2 separate regions of the Homo sapiens genome follow, and region 1 is linked to region 2. Evidence: fine-mapped expression QTL. A gene starts in region 2. The other region holds a variant in brackets. All regions are shown on one strand. Distances are between the middles of the regions. Region 1 overlaps CHID1 (chitinase domain containing 1). Region 2 holds the start of POLR2L (RNA polymerase II, I and III subunit L).

Region 1 (5,504 bases), 46 kb after region 2:
TTTAGGAGGTGATTAGAGCTAGACGAGGCCATGATGACGCGCCCCATGGTGGAGTTAGTGTCCCTATGAGAAGAGACACCACAGCTCTCTGCCATGCGAGGACACAGCAAAAAGGTGCCGACTGCACCAGGAAGAGGCCTTGCCGGAAGGTGGGCTTCGGGCTTGCCAGCGCCTCTCCGAGTCGGTCCCAGGTGGCACCTTGGCCCCTCCCACACAGAGCCCCCCAGCTCACAGCCCCACATCGCTCAGGTCCTGGCGGCAGATGCCAGGCAGCGTTGGCTGCGTCGGTTCCATCCCAGCCTGGCTGCTCCTGAGCCATGATCTCCCCGTGGCTTTCATTTGTGGTTCTCTCATGAATAACATGGTTGAGCATCTCCTGGCCTGCCCATCAGCTCCATGCACGCATCCACTGTGGCCTCTCGTGGTTCAGAGTCCAGGTCTCCTGCCCGCTGTTCTCTGGGGTCTTTGTTGCTTTCTTTCTTTTCTTCTCTTCTGTTTTTGAGACAGGGTCTTGCTCTGTTGCCCAGGCTGGAGTGCAGTGGCACAATCTCGGCTCACTACAGCCTCAAGACCTCTTGAGCTCAAGCTCCTCCTCTCAGCCTCCCGAGTAGCTGGGACCACAGGTGCCACCATGTCCAGCTAACTTTTAAATTTTTTGTAAAGATGAGGTCTCACTATGTTGCCCAGGCTGGTCTCAAACTCCTGGGCTCAAGCGATCCTCCTGCCTCAGCCTCCCCAAATGCTGGCATTACAGGCGCGTACCTCCACACGCAGCCCGTCGTTGCTTTCCCACCACCGTGTTCCCATTTTCTCTCCTCTAGCTCTCTCAGGTGGTCATGTGCTCTTGGTCAGTGGTGTGGGCAGCATCGTCCACCTGGCGAGAGGCTGGTCTTCTCGCTCCTTTGTGGTGTCTTCTGATGCACCCACATCCTGGTCCGAGTTGTCTGTGTCTGTCACTCCTTCCTCTCACGTGCTCCACGGTTCTGCTTCTGACTTGGGCCTTTGCTGCCCCTAGGACCATGGCCAGCAGGACTGCCTGTCCCTTTGGCTCCTACTTTGCCAATCTCATGGCAGCCCTGTCAGCCGCAGCTTCTACTCTGCAGGGGCCTGTCCCACAGTCCAACCCCTCCCCTGTGCCCATGATGCCCTTCCAAGCACCCCGTCCCGCTTCACACGCTGCTATCAGACATGTGGGGTCCTGCCGTGAGCCGGGCTCGTGTGCCTCCCCCACATCCACGGTGCTGCAACGCCCCTGTCCCTCTCGTGGGCGCCATGCCCTCCACCACCTCATGGCCTTGGCCACACCAGGCACTCCTGGCAGAGCTGGCTTCACTCCACAAGGCCTTGGTAGGTGAGGCCACGTGTCCAGGATCTGGTTCCCACCAGCTACAGAATGTGGCACAGAAACCACGAATGCTCCCCATGCGTCCACCAGAAATGCAGCTCCACGACATCCCCAAGCAGGAAGGGGCAGTCCTGCCAGGGGACATGGCTCCACACCACGCCCCTCAGTGCAGCATGCTGACATGTGACATGCCTGTGGCACAGCTTGCATTTTCCCTTCGGGGCTCACGCAGCCACCCACTGACCCAACAACTTTGCTACAGCTGGGCACCAACCACGGCCGCAGGCTAAGAACGGTCCTCACGCTTTCAAGGGTGGTAACACAACACGAGGGAACAAAGCAGGCCCCATTCAGAGGCGGAAGCAGCTCACGGTGGTGATCAGTGGGAGAAAGAGGGGAGGGCACCAGTCCTGTGCCCCCGGTCCTGCCAACCCCCACCTGGTGCTGGCCCTGAGGACCACCCGGGAATGTGGACCTCCTCCTACTTGCAAGAAACACTGCAAAAGGGCCACTGCCAGGTGTCCTCCCCAGCCTGTGTCCTTCACCCAGACACATGCGAGAGCCGGCAGCAGAGCCATCTGTCTCCGTGCCCCGTGGCACCTGGACAAGAGGGGATCACCACGGCTGAGCAATGAGGTAACAGCTTGTCACGGATTAGACGCAGCGTGACTTCCGATGAACAGGAATTACTGCTCACACCGAAAACACCATGTTCTGCATTCATTTCTGAGGAACGAAAGCCCCGGGAGGAAGGAAAGAAGGAAAAGGAGCTCATCACAGCCAGCTGCCGACCCTCCCATCGCCATGTCGTGGGTGGGCCCCATGCAGGCAGCGGCATGCAAG[T/G]TGAGTGCCCACTCGGCCTCGACTGGACCCCGGGCCCACACCAACGCCAGTGCCTGCCCACTCGGCCTCGACTGGACCCCGGGCCCACACCAATGCCAGTGCCTGCCCACTCGGCCTCGACTGGACTCCGGGCCCACACCAACGCCAGTGCCTGCCCACTTGGCCTCGATTGGACCCCGGGGCCCACAGCAACGCCAGTGCCCCTCCCCCTCCAGACGGCTGGACGCGCTCTGCTCTTCCCGGGCTGCCCCTGCTCAGGCTTTGTGCTGAGACAGGCCGCTCTGTGCCCCAGGGCCCTGGGGGTGCACTGCCCAGCTGGCTGCCTCACACTGAACAATCCCAGGCTGGGGCCTGACCAGGTCCCTCCAGCCACGTGGACCCCACAGCTGCCAGAGGCCGGGGCGGCTGCGGCCTCCAGAACAGCGTCCTCCCAGATCCGAGGGGAGACGGTGACACGAGTGAGCCCACAGTCTCCTGCCATGTACCCACACCGTCCCTCCAGCACAGCACGACTCTCACGTTCTACCTGCGAACTCCCTGAAACCCCCACCCACCCACCTTGGTCCTGACACTGGGCCCACGTGGCAGATGCCCCCTCTTCCCTCGGCCGACCAGCTGCCATCTCTGGGTGACATCTGCATCACTGTAGTTGACGCCAGGCAAAAGGAACGTCGGCTCCACGTCAACCCCTCCCGCCGCCATCTGCTGGGGTGGGCCCATCTCTTCCCTGCTCCTGCACTCCAGCTACCAGACCCTGTGGGCTTAGCCTCCCTGTCTCCCTAGACTGTCATCTTCCAGCCACCCAGCAGGGGAGAGCCATAGTCTCTGACCTCCATTCAGCTGACCTCCCTCCAGGCTGAATGTGAGGAAGGCGTGGGCTTGGCCTATGGTCCCTAGTCCCTGCCAGCCACACCGCCTGGCCCTATAGTTGCCACCTGCAGAGCCAGGCCCCACAGCAGCCCTGAGGGAATGCCAGTCCCCAACCCTAACAGAGATGGTGGCATCACTGTCAGGCCCCATAGCAGTCCAAGGGAATACCTTTCCCCAACCCTAACAGATGCTGGCATCACTGTCCCTGCAATCTCCCATGCTCAGGGCATCTGCCCCCAGCAGCCAGCGGCCACAGCTGTTCCTCCACCCACAGCTCCCCTCCCCCTCTGCCCACCTGTCAGAGATTTCTGAACCCGCTCCCCATGGCCTTGGGTCGCCTGGCCCCTGTCTGCTGCTGCTGGCATCCTCGCCCCCTCACGATGGCTGCTCTACTGTTCTCAGCCTGCAGGCCTAGCCCGCTCCCCATGGCCTTGGGTCCCCTGGCCCCTGTCTGCTGCTGCTGGCGTCCTCGCCCCCTCACGATGGCTGCTCTACTGTTCCTCAGCCTGCAGGCCTAGCCCGCTCCCTGACTGGCCGGTTAGCACCCTTTGGCCCTTTGGGGCCTGACCTCAGCCTGGACCTCGGCCCGTCCACACCGCACGGGGTGCCTACGGTCCCCCACAGAGGCCTCAACACACACTGCCAGCACGCGGCCTGCCCCATCCCCTGAGGCTGCGGGCAAGAGGCAGGTGGGCGACGGGAGCAGGGGCCTCTGTGCAAACGTGCTTGCTGGGGATACGGTGACGGCGCCCCCATGCGTCACCTTTCTCTGACTGCTGAGTTGGGCTCCACATATAGCGATGGCCGGCCCTGAACCACGGGGCTTGCAGGAGCTGGCCAGGGTCGCGGCCCCGCCCACCTCAGAGTGGACCACTGACAACAAGGCCGGCAACGGCGCCAGCAGGGCCCAGGAAGGAAACCAGCCCTTCCTGGGTTCCTGAGGTCAGCTCCCTGGACCCAAGGGGGTCCCAGTAGCTAACAATGCCCAGAAAACACAAGGGGCCAACTAGAGAGTGACCCAAGGGTTCTGCTCCCATGTTAAGGATGGCACCACCACATGGGCACCTGGGGACAGCCTGTTGGTCCCACTGGCCTGTGGGGTTTACGCTGTGGCTTTGCCCCTGGGTCTCCTCCATTGCTGAGACTGACTGTGGGAGCAGGGCTGGAGGTCCGCAGAGTGCTCAGTTCCAGGACCAGACACCCTGGGGTCTGTGGCAGCTGAGTTAGGGCTGCCTCTGTCTGCTGACGAAGGACACGATAAAATTGGCATTTGGCGACTGGGGTGCCCCTCCCCGCAGCACGCAGACCTCTCTCCAGGGGCCATTGTTCCACAGACAGTGCCCCTGGAGAGAGCGAGCCTGTGTGCTGGCAGCGCTGCTCTTGGGAGGTGAGTGACAAGCACAATTACGCGCTGCTGCAAAAGCACCAGGGACAGGGATTTACGAGGCTCCTCTGCAGTGGCTGCTCTTCCCTCAGAGTGGGATGGGGGAAGGATAAACAGATGACAAAACAGCCCTCCTCACCTCTGGGGCTGTAGCCAGAGTCTCGGGAGAACCCACGGGAGCCTCAGCACCTTCACCGGCCCCGCCGACTGGGAGGGCACAGCCCTGTGCTCCAGTGGAGCGGGCGCACAACAGCAGTGCCCAGCCCTCCCCCGAGCTGGGTCCCACTTCCCCGGGGACCCCCACCGTGGGCCTCGGCCCCGCCCCCAGCCTCGTCACCGTGCCCGTAGCCCTGGCGTGCATCCCACCCTACAGCTGCAACCCCCACCAGCGCCATGCAAATGGAGTTGTGAGCTTTGGTTGCTGTGGGGTGAGGGGCAGGGACCTGGCCCAGCTCCAACTGCCCACTTCCTGCCTAGGGCCAGAAGCTCAGGCAGAGGCTGCCACCAGCAGAAGACAGGCACCTGGTCCTCTGCCCCAGCCTCAAGAACTGCCCTGGGCTCCTGAGCTGGTCCCCACCGATGGCTGCTTCTGCAGCTCCCCTAAGCACAAAGGGCAACCTGGGAGCCCCATGAAATCAGTGCCTCACAGAGGTGGCCATGCCCATGGCCTCTGGACAAGGAGTGTCTGCTGCCCCGAGGAATCTTCACCCAGCCCCAGGCCTGTAGTCCTCCCAACCACCTGAGACAGGTGCTGTCAGCTCTGGAAGGACGTGTCCTCACAGCCAGCCCCTGCCAGCCCCCTTCAAACCCTGGGAACACAGGTCAGACATTAGTGCCTTACATCGGAAAAGGCTGGCCACGGTGGCTTGGGAGGCCGAGGTGGGATGATCGCTTGAGCCCAGGAGTTCAAGACCAGCCTGGGCAACATGGCAAAACCTCATTTCCAAAAAAAAAAAAAAAAAAAAAACACAAATTAACTGGGTGTGGTGACATGTGCCTGTAGCCCCAGCTACTCAGGAGGCTGAGGTGGGGGATCACTTGAGCCTGGGAGGCAGAGGTTGC
Region 2 (5,000 bases):
TCAGGCCCAGGGCATCCAGCGCATCCCTGTGTCGAGGGGAGGAGCAGAGGCCAACTGAGTTCTCTACGGTCTGCAAAGGCCTGGAGCCCACATCCAACCTGCCTCTCACTGCCTGCTGGCCTCACCCCCCCCGCCACCGGCAAGGCGAACAGATTCACCCGGCTCAGAAGCTGAGATCTAGCAGTATGATCCTGGCTGGAGTAACCTGGAAATGCCCAGAACCCTGGGTGGAGCGTGAGGAGCCTCCTCTCCCACCTACTCTGGCTGTACGTGTGTGTGTATAACGTATGTAAGAAATGTAAATGAAATGAAAACGAAGTAATTGCGGGGAGCTTAGAAAACCAAGACCACCAAGGTGCTGATGTGCAGCCACCTCATCCAGCACTGGCCACGGCAGGGTAGCTCTCCAGGGGCCTGCCCTTAGCTGGTTCACCCCCACCCCAGCCAGAGCAAGCCCTGCTCTGCCGCTGTGGGGTCTTTCCTCACCTCTGCTTCCTTCCATCAGAGAGAGACTGCTTCTCCACGGAGCCACCTCTCCCACTTCCCAAGCCAATTAGAAGCTTTCATTTCCCTGGGACCTAGCTCCAGTCACCCTCAAGACCTCCAGAAAACTCCCACACCGATGGCTCCAATGTGCAGAGACACAGAAGCTTGGGAAAGGGGAGGCCACATGGGAGGCCCCTGCCGTTCCTATCCGGGGAAAGGGTCTGGACAGGCCGCCAGCCACTCAGTCTAGCAGCCCACTCGCTTTCCTCGTTTGTCCAGCAAGCTGCACCAAGTGCCGATGGCAGGCTGGCGCACACAAGCCCAGGGCTTCACATGTGACGAAGACTCAGTGGGCGAGGGTCAGACTCCAGCGGGGGCACCAAGACTCAGGCACCGTGGTGACAGCAGCACCAAGGGACAAGCACAGGAGAAAGACGCCTCCCCTACAAAGCCTGATGAGGGTGGTCAGCAAGTCTACCCTGCATTTCTTTTTCTGTGTGTGTGTGTGCGTGAGACGGAGTTTCACTCTCTCTTCCAGGCTGGAGTGCAGTGGCGTGATCTTGGCTCACTGCAACCTCCACCTGCCTCCCAGACTCAAGCGATTTTCTCGTCTCAGCCTCCCAAGTAGCTGGGACCACAGGTGTGCACCGCCATGTCCGGCGAATTAAAAAGATAGAGCCAGGCGCGGTGGCTCACGCCTGTAACCTCAGCACTTTGGGAGGTCGAGGCGGGTGGATCACCTGAGGTCAGGAGTTCCAGACCAGCCTGGCCAACATGGCGAAATCCCATCTCTACTGAAAATACAAAAATTAGCCGGGCGTGGTGGCACACGCCTGTAGTCCCAGCTACTCGGGAGGCTGAGACAGGAGAATTGCTGGAGCCCAGGAGGCGGGGGTTGCAGTGAGCCGAGATCGCGCCACTGCACTCCAACCTGGGCGACGGAGCGAGACTCCGTCTCAAAAAAGAAAAATAAAATAAAATAAATTTCTGGAGATCAGGGTCTCCCCAGGTTGTCCAGGCTGGTCTCGACCTCCTGGGCTCAAGCAAGCCTCTCGCCTCGGCCTCCCAAACTGCTGGGATTACAGATGTCAGCCGCCGCGCCCGCCCGTCCTGCAGCGAGGTTTGCAGGACATGGGGTGGGCCTGGGGGCAGAGATGGGAATAGGGCGGAGGCCAAGGGCTTTACTGCGGGTGACAAGACGCCTGCGACCCGCCAGGCCACCTAGAATCCCCAGGACACCACTGGTTTGAAGCCCAACTCCGTTCTCTTCCCCAGACTTCAGGGGATAAGGTTCTCCCGAAAGCAGATCACAGAGCGGGGCTGGAGAAGCCGGGCCTGAAGCTGCTCATGGGGCGCTGGCCTCAGGCAGCGCTGCGCCTCCCGCCCCGGCGCGCACCCCAGGGCGGACTCAGCCCCCAGCCCCGGCCCGCGCCCCACGGCGGACTCAGCCCCTAGCCCCGGCCCGCGCCTCACCCCTCGGTGTACTCGGCCTGCAGCAGCCCCAGGTAAGCCTCCCACTTGTTGCCGACGATCTTGCCACAAGTGAAGCAGCGTACAGGGATGATCATGGCGGCGGCGCGTCCCAGACTGCCCGGCCCGGCCCGGCCGCACGCGAAGAACCCCCCCAGGCCCCGCCCCGGGCGCGTCCACTGTTGCGGGAGAATCGGCTCCGCTCGTTCTCCGCTGTTCCGGCCGTCCCTCCACCGGCCCCGCCACCGCTGGCCGCAGTTTCCGCCGCGATAGGGGCTTCCCGTGCGTCCCGGGGCTCCTGGGCCTGTGCGTCCCGGGGCTCCCGGGCCCGCGCGGCCGCGGCAGCAGCAGACCGCACACCCCCGCCCACCGTCTTGGTGCATCCCGGCGCTACGGCGTCTGAGCAGGGCCGTAAAGCTGCGGCGGCGGTTCGCGTTTCTCGTGTCCGCTTGACTGACAGCTGCGCGGCGGGAGCGGGCGGCGCGAGCGGGAGGCGGCGGCGCAGGTACTGCGCCTGGGGGTTGTGGGGGCGTGCGGCCAGGGTCCCGTGGCCGGAGGTGTCCGACCGGGAGCGGCTGGAGCCGGACGCGAGCGGGGCGCGCGAGTTCGAGCCCAGAGCCGACACGCAGCAACAAGTGGGGTCCGGCGCGGGGGCTCGGGGAGAGGGCGGGCGGGGGCCGGGGCGGGTCTTCCTGCCGCCCCTCCTGGCCGCGCCGAGTAGTGGGTTCCTCCGCCTCGGCCTCTGCCCGCGGGGTGTCCGGGGCTCTCGGCGCTGAGTTCGGGGGTCCCATTCTGGACGCGGCCCAGCCCCTAGGGGCGCCGCCCTGGCCTCAGCTGCGCAATTACAGCCCCCGCCGGCAGCTCCCCGCCCCGGGCTCCTGTCCGCGTTCTTTCCGCTCTTTCCCGGGAATGGGGTCGGGGTGCGCCCTCCCGGGTCCCGGCTCTGCTGGCTGCTCGCCGTCCCGAGCTCCCGACGCTCAGACGCGCCTCTGAGCACGGGGAGAGGGGACCCGGGAGGGAGGTCGGGGAGGGAGTCGTGGAAGAGGTGCTTTTTGAGCTGAACCTGGAAGACCCCGGCACAGGGGATCCCTGGGCAGACTCCCGGAGGCTGCACTGGCAGGACCCCCTGAAGGCCTCAGCTCTGGCTTGCCCTGGAGCTCAGGGCCTACGGACGACGAGGGACGAGGAGCCCGTGTCTCTCGGATGGAGTGCGGGGGGGCTGGCACCAGCACCCTTCTTGCTGTGCCCCTGGGGTGGGGGTGAGGAAATGGGGGGTCGGTGTGCAGTGAGAGGCAAAGAAGGCTCCTTGGAGGTGCGAGGTGGGCTGTGGGGGTGGGTGGGCCGCAAAGCGGCACCCATGGGGGGCTCTGGGCTGGTTTGCCGGCCTGGGGCTTCTGGCTGGGGTGGGACCTGTGTTGGGTTCCAGGCATCAGCTGCCGCTTTCTCAGGGCAATGCTGCGTCTGCCTTAGTTGCAGAGGAGGAGGACGAAGGGTTTTCTGGGTCCGGAGTGGTGCTAGCCAGATCCACTGCACGCTTGGGGTTTCCGCTCCCACCCTGGCCAGGGCCCTGGGCAGCTTCCCCAGTGGCATTTGCCATACCCCACCCAGCCACGTGCGGAGCCACGAGCCGAGGCCACTTCCCTTCCCTGACCCCCTCCCCCCAGGATGAGTGGACGCACATCCTGCTCTGGGCAGAAGGGCAGGACAGGGGCCCTGAGTAACGGTGGCCTGGGGTCAGAGCCAGGTTCAGCTGCGAGGCTGCTGGTGGCTGTGGAGGTGAGGGGGGCAGGGGGGTCCCGGATGTTAGCAGGGTGGGCCCTGGGGAGTGGGTGGGGGCCTGGAGGCTTCTTGGAGGAGGGTCCAGGGCCTGTCCCGCCCCTGTTCCTGCCTGCAGGAGTTGTTTACTCAGAGCAAGGGGTGGTGGGGAGTGAGCTGCTCTCCAAATCCTGGCTTGGGCCAAGCTGACATTCTTGGAATTCCGAGTGTGTGCGCTTCCTATCCCTCCATTTCCCAGCAGAGCCCCTGAGATCTGGAGACTGCCCCAGCCTCAGGCTCTGTGCATCTCCCCCGAGCCCCCACCACATATGTGCGGAGGCCCCTGGGGGCCCAGGCCTGTCCTCAGTCCCGACTGGGCTCTACCTGAGGACCCTGGGGAGCCTGGGCCTGGCCCTCCTCAGGCAAGCGGGGGTGGGAGGGAGCCTGGTGGCGGGGCAGGGCACTGTGCCCGCCAGCAGGGGCGGGTGGGGGCCCCTCTCTCCTGGGTGTGGAGTGTTGGCGCAGACTCGGCCTGGCTTCTGGGGGGGGGGGTCTGGGATGGGGCCAGGAGGGTGAGGCGCTGGTTTTATAGAAGGGGGCGTTGTGGAGCCTCCTGTGGTCAGGGCAGGGCACAGGGAGCAGAGGGTGGGCTCCCCCGGCTGCTTCCTGCTAGAGGAGGGATCACTTCAGGGCAAAGGACCAGGGGAAACCCATGATTGAAGTTTTAGCTGCTGACCCCTCCCACCCTGGGTGTTGCCCTGGAAACAGGCCAGCCACGGGACCAGGAGGGCTGGGAGGGGGAGCACGGGCTGAGCCCTGGCTGGGATTCAGCTGAACTTGCACTCTGGTCTGGGATCCCAGCCCACGTTTCCCTGTCTGTAAAGCTCAGGTGGGATCAGAAACTGCCCGCCCGGAGGGCTGCATCCCTCCTGCCGCTGAGGCTGGGCATGACCTTGACTGGGAGAGGGTGTTGAAGGTGTCTGTCCCCAGCCTCGCCCCCACACCTGTGCTCTCTGGCCCTGTCCATGCCTGGGACAGATGTGTGCTCACCCCCAGGGTGCTGTGGGATGGGGTGGGTGCACACGGCGCCACGAGCACACGTGCCCGACACCTCAGCGGTGCACACAGCCAAGGCCACTGCCCACCGTACCCACGCCGTCCGTGTCCTCTCTACGGTCCTGGGAGACTGGCGTTGTGAGCAGTGGGGCCTGTAGATGGGGCCGGGTCCTCTCTACGGTCCTGGGAGACCGGCGCTGTGAGCGGTGGGGCCTGTAGATGGGGCCGAGACT

The links. PIP is the estimated chance that this variant, and not a neighbour inherited with it, causes the effect.
Region 1: its variant is the best candidate, but not a certain one, in a credible set for the expression of POLR2L in whole blood (TOPMed, PIP 0.72).

Annotation. Positions count from the first base shown.
Region 1 is chr11:886,552-892,055 of GRCh38, forward strand. The region is part of intron 8 of CHID1 (chitinase domain containing 1); the gene reads right to left. Among named protein-coding and RNA genes, the nearest start is that of CHID1, 22 kb to the right of the region's middle. RefSeq lists enhancers at 3,179-3,698, 4,738-5,255, 5,256-5,504. The variant T/G (reference allele first, on the strand shown) is at 2,189.
Region 2 is chr11:840,455-845,454 of GRCh38, forward strand. POLR2L (RNA polymerase II, I and III subunit L) reads right to left here and starts at 2,075. Exons shown (of 2, transcript NM_021128.5): 1 at 1,960-2,075; 2 at 1-26. The coding sequence starts at 2,054. TSPAN4 (tetraspanin 4) reads left to right here and starts at 2,398. Exons shown (of 9, transcript NM_003271.5): 1 at 2,398-2,461. RefSeq lists enhancers at 334-1,078, 1,079-1,824, 1,825-2,568 and silencers at 1,837-2,466, 2,577-2,666, 2,687-2,916, 2,902-3,070.